Homo sapiens: one gene and its partner. The gene in region 2 interacts genetically with the main gene of each other region. Each region holds a gene or a part of one and is shown on either strand. Other genes may lie near its edges.

The links.
Region 1: changes in ABCG2 (region 2) and CSK are lethal when combined (synthetic lethality), as found in Homo sapiens cells (one large-scale study listed by BioGRID).

The regions. Positions count from the first base shown.
Region 1 is NC_000015.10:74,792,021-74,795,836, reverse strand, and holds part of CSK (tyrosine-protein kinase CSK), read right to left. Parts: intron 2,792-3,816; exon of another isoform or gene 2,589-2,791; intron 1-2,588. UniProt on the Homo sapiens protein: Non-receptor tyrosine-protein kinase that plays an important role in the regulation of cell growth, differentiation, migration and immune response.
Region 2 is NC_000004.12:88,092,379-88,096,194, forward strand, and holds part of ABCG2 (broad substrate specificity ATP-binding cassette transporter ABCG2), read right to left. Parts: intron 3,232-3,816; coding exon 3,142-3,231; intron 2,282-3,141; coding exon 2,199-2,281; intron 4-2,198; coding exon 1-3.

The DNA of each region.
Region 1 (3,816 bases), on a different chromosome or scaffold from region 2:
ACAAGGCTTTCTGACAACAATAGGCTATTAGTAGTTAAGTTTTTGAGGAGTCAAAAGTTAATATATGATTTTTTGACTGCAGGGAGGAGGTTGATGCCCTCAACCCCTGTGTTGTTCAAGGGTCAACCGTATATTTACTTCAATAAAGTTGACTCCCCAAAAAAGCTACCCTAGCCAACCCCATTCCCTGAGAGCAGCAACCCACCCGTCTGCACACACATACTTTGTAATCCCAGCCCAGAGCCCCCTTGGACCTGTCTCAGGAAGCAGAGGGGCTGGAACTACTGTTTCCTTTCTACGGGTGAGGAAACTGAGGGTGAGAAAGGGCCAGTGGCATCTTCGTGGTCACAGTGTGTTAGAAGAGAAACTCCTCCATGAGCCTCTTTGCTGGGCTCTTTGATACAGTGGATGAGGTCTGGGGGCTAGGCTGACAGTCACAAATATTGCTACCTACCCCAGTGGAAGGAGACATTTTATTTTATTATTATTGTTATTATTGCGACGGAGTCTTGCTCTGTTGCCCAGGCTGGAGTGCAGTGGCGCGGGAGAAGACATTTTAGTGCAAAGTGCTGGGGGTGTGAAGTAGGCACGGACTGCAGAGCTCAGACAGGCTCCCTGGAGGAGGGAGCTCTGGGGCTGAGCCCTGAAGATTGCAGGGCTTACACAGGCAGAGGGCGGGCCAGGGAAGGCACCCCAGGTTGATGCAGCAGTCTGAGCAAAGGTGTCAGGCAGGGGACTGGCATAGTATGAGAAACTGGCCCAGGTGGAAGCCGATGGTGAGGGAAGCGGGAAGGCAGACCCTGCCCATCTGGGGCTCTAGGACCCCACACACTTCCAGAGTCCACCTTGAGCACCGCTGCTCAGGGGACACTGTAGGGGATGGTTTCAAGTGGGCCTGGCATAAACTCTGCCAGGCAGCAGGGGGACTTCCACTGCCAATGTGAGGAACCAGGGTTTGACTCCAAGGGCGATGGGGCCTCAGCAGGGGGGCATGTGATCATGGAGAGCAGAAGGAGCTGGGGAGGAGACGGCCAGGGAGAACCAACACTTCCAGGCCGCACACCTGGCTCTATAGTCAGGCCTGGGCTTAATACCTGGCTCTGTTGACTGTGCGACTTGGGGTGAGTGACTCAACCCTTCTAAGTCTTGCTTACCCTGAAGGGGAGGACAGGTATCTCCTGCAAGCTGGCTGAGGAGGGGCTGGAATGAAACCCTGAACTTGGAAATGTCTGGTGCGCCCCTGCCCCATCCCCTGGATGAAAGAGCTTCCGTTCCTCCCAGAATACAGGGCCCTTTCTATCCCCAGAGGCCAGGCCATCAATCCTGCTGTTTAGGCAGGGACACTGAGGCCCAAGGAGGATGAGCCTGAAACCTGCCTCCATCCACATGACTCAGTCACCACTAAGTACAGGAACCATCCCTTGCCCCTGCCTCCTGTGGACTGTAAGCTGTGAGGGTGGGGGTGGCGGGGACCCCTTGCCCCTGCCTCCTGTGGACTGTAAGCTGTGGGGGTGGGGGTGGCGGGGACCCCTTACCCCTGCCTCCTGTGGACTGTAAGCTGTGGGGGTGGGGGTGGCGGGGACCCCTTGCCCCTGCCTCCTGTGGACTGTAAGCTGTGAGGGTGGGGGTGGCGGGGACCCCTTGCCCCTGCCTCCTGTGGACTGTAAGCTGTGAGGGTGGGGGTGGTGAGGACCCCTTGCCCCTGCCTCCTGTGGACTGTAAGCTGTGGGGGTGGGGGTGGCGGGGAGGGAAGGAGGATTGTGAGCTCTTCTAACCCTCTTACCCCCATTTCACAGAAGCGGAAACTGAGGCTCAACTGGTTGAACAATTTGCCTGAAGTCACATAGCTAGTTAGGGGTGACAGAGCTTGAATTAGGGTCCCACTAGGGCTGGCTGGGCCCCCAACCTTTAGGTCCTTCTGAATAGGGGCCCTGCTAGCATTCCACATCCCCATGCCTCCCCCTTCCTCCCCAAACTCCCTGCCACCACAGGGGGGCGCGGAGGCTGCTGCGCTGTTAGTCACCCTTCCAGCTGTCAGTTTGCAAACACTCCCTTCCTGGCCTACAGCTACTGCCACCGCCGCCTCCCCACTGCCTTGATTATAATAATAAAAATAATAACAGGCCCTGTTTTCTGAGCACTTATTCTGTGCCAGGCCCTGTCCTTGGCACGTTATGGCTCATCACATCCTCTAACAACTCTGAGACAGAGAAGCTATTATTATCCCCATTTTGCAGATGAGAACCCCAAGTGAGGCCCACAGGGGCAAGGCGGGGGTCCCTAGGGCCACACCTTGAGTGAGCATTCTGTCCCCCTCAGGTGTCAAACTCCTGAGCTGCTGAGCCAGCCCTCCCCATAGCCCCGTGCCTCCCTGCCGGACAGGCCCCAGGAGTTGCCATGGGGACCACACTAGCCTAGGGGCAAGGGAGAGGAGGGAGGAGGGAGGAGGCAGAAGCAGCTATGAGGGGCACAGGGGCGGTGCTCAGGGAAGGGTAAGCCTAGGAGCGGTCGGGGTGGGCTGCCTCAAGGAGCTGGGCTCTGAAGGCCTCAGAGGGTCTGGAAACAGGGAAGAGGGCTAAACTCATCACCTTTACTCTGCTGGCTGTGACTCTAGAACCCAGCTTCCCCATCTGTGCAATGGACTGGTGATACTCCTTGGCTCTGGGGGCTGCTGTGAGGACTGGAGTTGAGCTCTCAGCACCAGAACAGTGCCTGCCTTGCCACAGACATCTTGCAAGTGGGAGCTGCTAACTCTCTTGGACGGCTCCTCCCTGGTGGGGTCATGAGACCCCTGAATGAATGAATAAATGAACAAACAAAAGGGGGAATCCAGCCTGGCTACATCACACTGAGGTCCCATAACCAATGGGACTATAGTTAACCCCAAAGGGACTATAGTTAACCCCAAAGCGATAGCAGCTGTCACCCCACCCCCACAGAGCTAGGGGACAAGGGGCTTGGGATGTGGCAGGACCAGTGCTTCACGCTGACTTCCTGCCCCAAACCCGGCTCCCAGTAGCCCTTGTGCTGGGGTCCCGGGAACAGGCTGGCATTGTGCCCAAGCACTGACGTCAGTGGCCGCAGACAAGATGGCTCAGTGGCTTCCCAGCTAGTGCCTAGGCCGGGGTCCCCTCCTTAAAACATCTCCAGAAGGTGAGACCCTCCCACTGCAGGTCAGAGGCTGACAGCCAGAGTGGCTGGGAGGAGCTACTGCAAACTTAGGCCTCTACAACCCAGCGGGGGTCAGGCACAGAGAGGGGGTCCTTCCTGGGGTTATTTAAACTTAAGAGTCGGGCTACTCTATGGAACAGTGCAGGAACATCGTCCTGGGTGTCAGATGCTCTGAGTCCTGTACCCAGCTCTGCCATCAACTTGCTGTGTGACCTTGGGAAAGTCACTTGACCTTTCTGGGACTTGTTGGCTTCTGGTACCTTAGCCAGACCTGTTTCCCATCTGCTGTTGCCAGGACACCTGTGCCCTGTCTCCCTCCCCGCCTTGCCATTCCCTTCACACTCTCTCCTCCTCCTTTACCGAGGGACTTCCACTCAACCTTGGGGGTGCAGCTGAGCAACTGCTTCTGGAGTACCCATGCCTTAAAAAAACACAGCAGGACAGTCCCTGCAGTGCTGTCTGTAGTAGCAGGAGATGATGGGGAGACAGCCTTTATGTCCATCAGTTGGGGGCTGGGTGGATAAATTACAAGATGTCCCTGAAAGGGGACAGCATAGCTCTAGCTGTGATGGGGCCAGGGGAGATCTCTAGATGCCGATACTGAACACTCCCCATGATAGAGTATGGAAAATGGCAAAACACCAG
Region 2 (3,816 bases):
CATCTGAAATTAAACAGAAAAAGAATATAACTTCATTCCTAGCATCCGTCAAATGTTACTCAGTATATCCACTGTTCCTTAAAGGAGCCTAAAATTGAACCAAGCCTTTAATAATTACCCCTTCAGATATCATAGCTAACAGTCATTGTGTGTTTACAATTTTGCTAGACACTAACAAACAACATGGACCTAACTTAGTTAATTCCTAAAACAATCCAATGTGATAGACATTGTACACACTTAAAAGATGAGGGGACTAACGTTTAAGGAACTTGACCAGGTTTACAGAGTCATACTTTGAATCACCAAGTTTTTAGCCTACTCAAATTTATTGGTTTCCAAATCTGTAATGCTGCTCTCTCCAAAGGGCAGAAATATTTATCAAGTAATAGTTCCCTTATCCCTGATAAAGAAAATATCTGCTTAAACAGATGACACCTGTGACCCTTACTAAGATGATCAAAGCTCTTACAGTACTCTTTACGCTTACAAATAGCCATAAAAAACAACACAGGTTAAGAATTCCAAAACCAGGAAAAGAGGTGTGCATGGGTTTCCTGCCAAAGTCATGTTCTGTCAGCTCTTGCACCAAGACTGTGAGGAGCATCACAGATACTCAGGTACAAGACATTCCCAGCAGACTCAGCTATCAGGTTTAAGCCTTAAGTGGCAGCTAGAGTAGAGTAGGATGAACTCCTTGCCACAGGTTAGGAAATCATCTTGTACTAAAAAGACCTTGGACAGCCACAGTTACTGCCTGATACCATTTTTGTGCAACTCTTGGGAATTCAGCAATTCCAAAAACATACATAGCCTCTCTTTTACTATAAGAATAGCTTCCTCCTGGCCGGCTGCAGTGGCTCATGCCTGTAATCCCAGCACTTTGGGAGGCCAAGGCAGGTGGATCACGAGGTCAGGAGACGAGACCATCCTGGCTAACATGGTGAAACTCCATCTCTACTAAAAATACAAAAAATTAGCCAGGTGTGGTGGTGGGCACCTGTAATCCCAGCTACTCAGGAGGCTGAGGCAGGAGAATGGCGTCAACCCGGGAGGTGGAGCTTGCAGTGAGCGGACATCGTGCCACTGCACTCCAGCCTCGGTGACAGAGCGAGACTCCATTTCAAAAAAAAAAAAAAAAAAAAAGGAATATCTTCCTCCTTTGTCTACTGAGGATGAAGCCTCATCTTCCGTTACCATGAAGCCCATGGTGGTTCCTCCTTATCTGGTCCCATTTTTCCCATCCACTTCATCCTGACCACCCTGATCAAGCCAAAAGAGAGGGACAGAATAAAGAAAACCTCTCTGTACAGAGGATTTCCTGTGGACAATTCAAAAGAGTAATTTGTCCTGTTATTCAGAATTATTTATATTCTACTTGAACATTCAGGAGATTGAGGATAATATCAACATTCTCTTTTCTCTCATTAATTTATGTATCAAAATCAAACCATTAGCAATCATAGAAAAGGCACGTGTTACTAAATTCTTAAAACAATATTATCCAGTGTTATTAGAATCTGTTTTAACATTATGTGAAAACGGGGTTTTTTTCTCAACTTATTCAAGTGTTTCTTGTTTTTTTAGAGGATAAATCGATTGATAGGGAGTATTCCAAGTTAATTTAAAAACAACAACACATGACTATGCGGCCTTTGATTTCATGATGTCTTCCAAATGCATGAGGCAGTGGAAGTGCCAGGATCTTGGCAGGGAAATGTTTACTTTCTTTGTGCTATTGCTGCCTATTTCATTCTTACTACTGTCCGTGGGTTGGGCTCAGAAGTATCCGTGAGTTCAGGGACCCATAGATTTCATATAATCCATACAGTTCAGGAACCATAAGCCCTTGATAAAATATCAAAGCACCTCACTTCAATCTCAAATGCTCTGAAAACCAAGAATTCAAACCCACAATCAAAATATCAAAAGGATCTTTTAAAAGGCCCAAAACAATAAGAAACAAACGTAAGAAACATTGCTGCATGTTAAAGACAATTTTTACTGCAGCAGAATACTGAGGGGTTGTGCCACATGTTCACATGCATTCGCGCACAACTCACTTTATGGATGAGAAAACGTAGGCTCGGAAAAATTCAGTGCCCCTGGAAGGACTCATACAGATCTAAGCCCAGTAGCCTTTATACATCACACCATGGTAGTAACAAAACCCATTTTGACACTGAACAAAAACTTACGTTGCATAGTTACAAGGATTGTTTCCTGTTGCATTGAGTCCTGGGCAGAAGTTTTGTCCCAAAAATTCATTATGCTGCAAAGCCTATAACACAAGTGGGAGCAGGGCAAGGTAAACAGTTTTAAATTTCAAGAAGTTTCCAAAGAGTTATCACAATCATGCCCTCTGAGTTTAATCTTTATTGTTATTTCTAAAAACATATTCACAGTCTTTGTCTCACCAAACCAACTAATGTTATTTTCCCTGGCAATCAAGAAACCTAGGGTTGGGATTTTGGCTTCCAATACAAAAGAAGTAAAGTATTTTGCCAAAGCGGGAGACCTCTGGCTATACTACACCATAGCTCCTTCCTCCTTCTCTCCCCAATTTTGTAACTCCATAAACATTCTAATTAAAATGATACAGTGGTGCTCAATGAGTATTGTTAATTTACAGTGACAATCTTTCGTTCTTGTTTGTTTTCATTAGAACCAGTTGTAATTCTTGGATGTTAGAAGCTTGGTTATACTATATTAAGACACAGATAGTTTACTTTGGAGTTAATGAGCTTGCAAAAGCCAATATGACTATGCTTATTATATGGTCTTTGCTCTTCTAATTTTCCTTTCATTATAAACATATGTATTCTAGTGTCCCATCCTCTCATTTACTTCCTTATTGAACTGAAATGCAACAATGTGTTTTTCATCAATTAGCCAATCTTTCTCCTTTACTAGGAGGTATCTCCCCTAGCCCTTTAAAGGATGACTGAGGAAAATAGCAAATGACTCCCCAGCCTTGTGTTAACCAAGGCTAACAGGAAATTCTCATTCCTTGCTCCTAAAAGGGAGTTTCTGGATGGGAGACTTTCACAGCTCATGGTCAGGGAAATGAGATGAGGACACTTGATTTCCATTGTTCCTAGCTTGGGAATGCAGTCACAGTGACAGACAAGGAAGACATACCGTAAATCCATATCGTGGAATGCTGAAGTACTGAAGCCATGACAGCCAAGATGCAATGGTTGTGAGATTGACCAACAGACCTGAAAAAATCTACAAAAAGCAAATACTAAAAGTCAGGCCTGCTTGAGTAATTTCATGCAGAATTCTAGAGAATACCCTCTTCAAGTCCCTACCACTTTGTAAGTATTTCTTTTAAAACCAACTCTTTCTTGAAGTTCTCTCCACTTACTCAAGACACTCACTAAACTCTTCTCCTCTGCATGTGCACATCTCTATATAGCTGAAGTCATTTACGGTTTTAAAGGAAGAACAAAATATCTAATACATATTAGATATTCCATTTAATCGTAAGATCCTCAATTGTCAAGACTATGTACTCAACTTTATTTGTAACTGCAAATAATGGAAGGTCAAGAAGCACTGACTATTCTAATGACACAACCACTATGTGTGCTCACCAATACACCTGGCATTGGAAGAATCTATACCAGATAAATCCTGAGCGTCACATGCCCACTGCACCTCACATAAGATTTGTTATTTACAAAGGTTTGCAGTCTATATCCATATGACTTTAGCAAGGATATGAGGTTCTGAATGCAGGCTTAACATAACCCAAAGTCTAGAACTGATACAGAGTATAATGTAGTGAGAGGTAGAGCATAAGCAGGATCA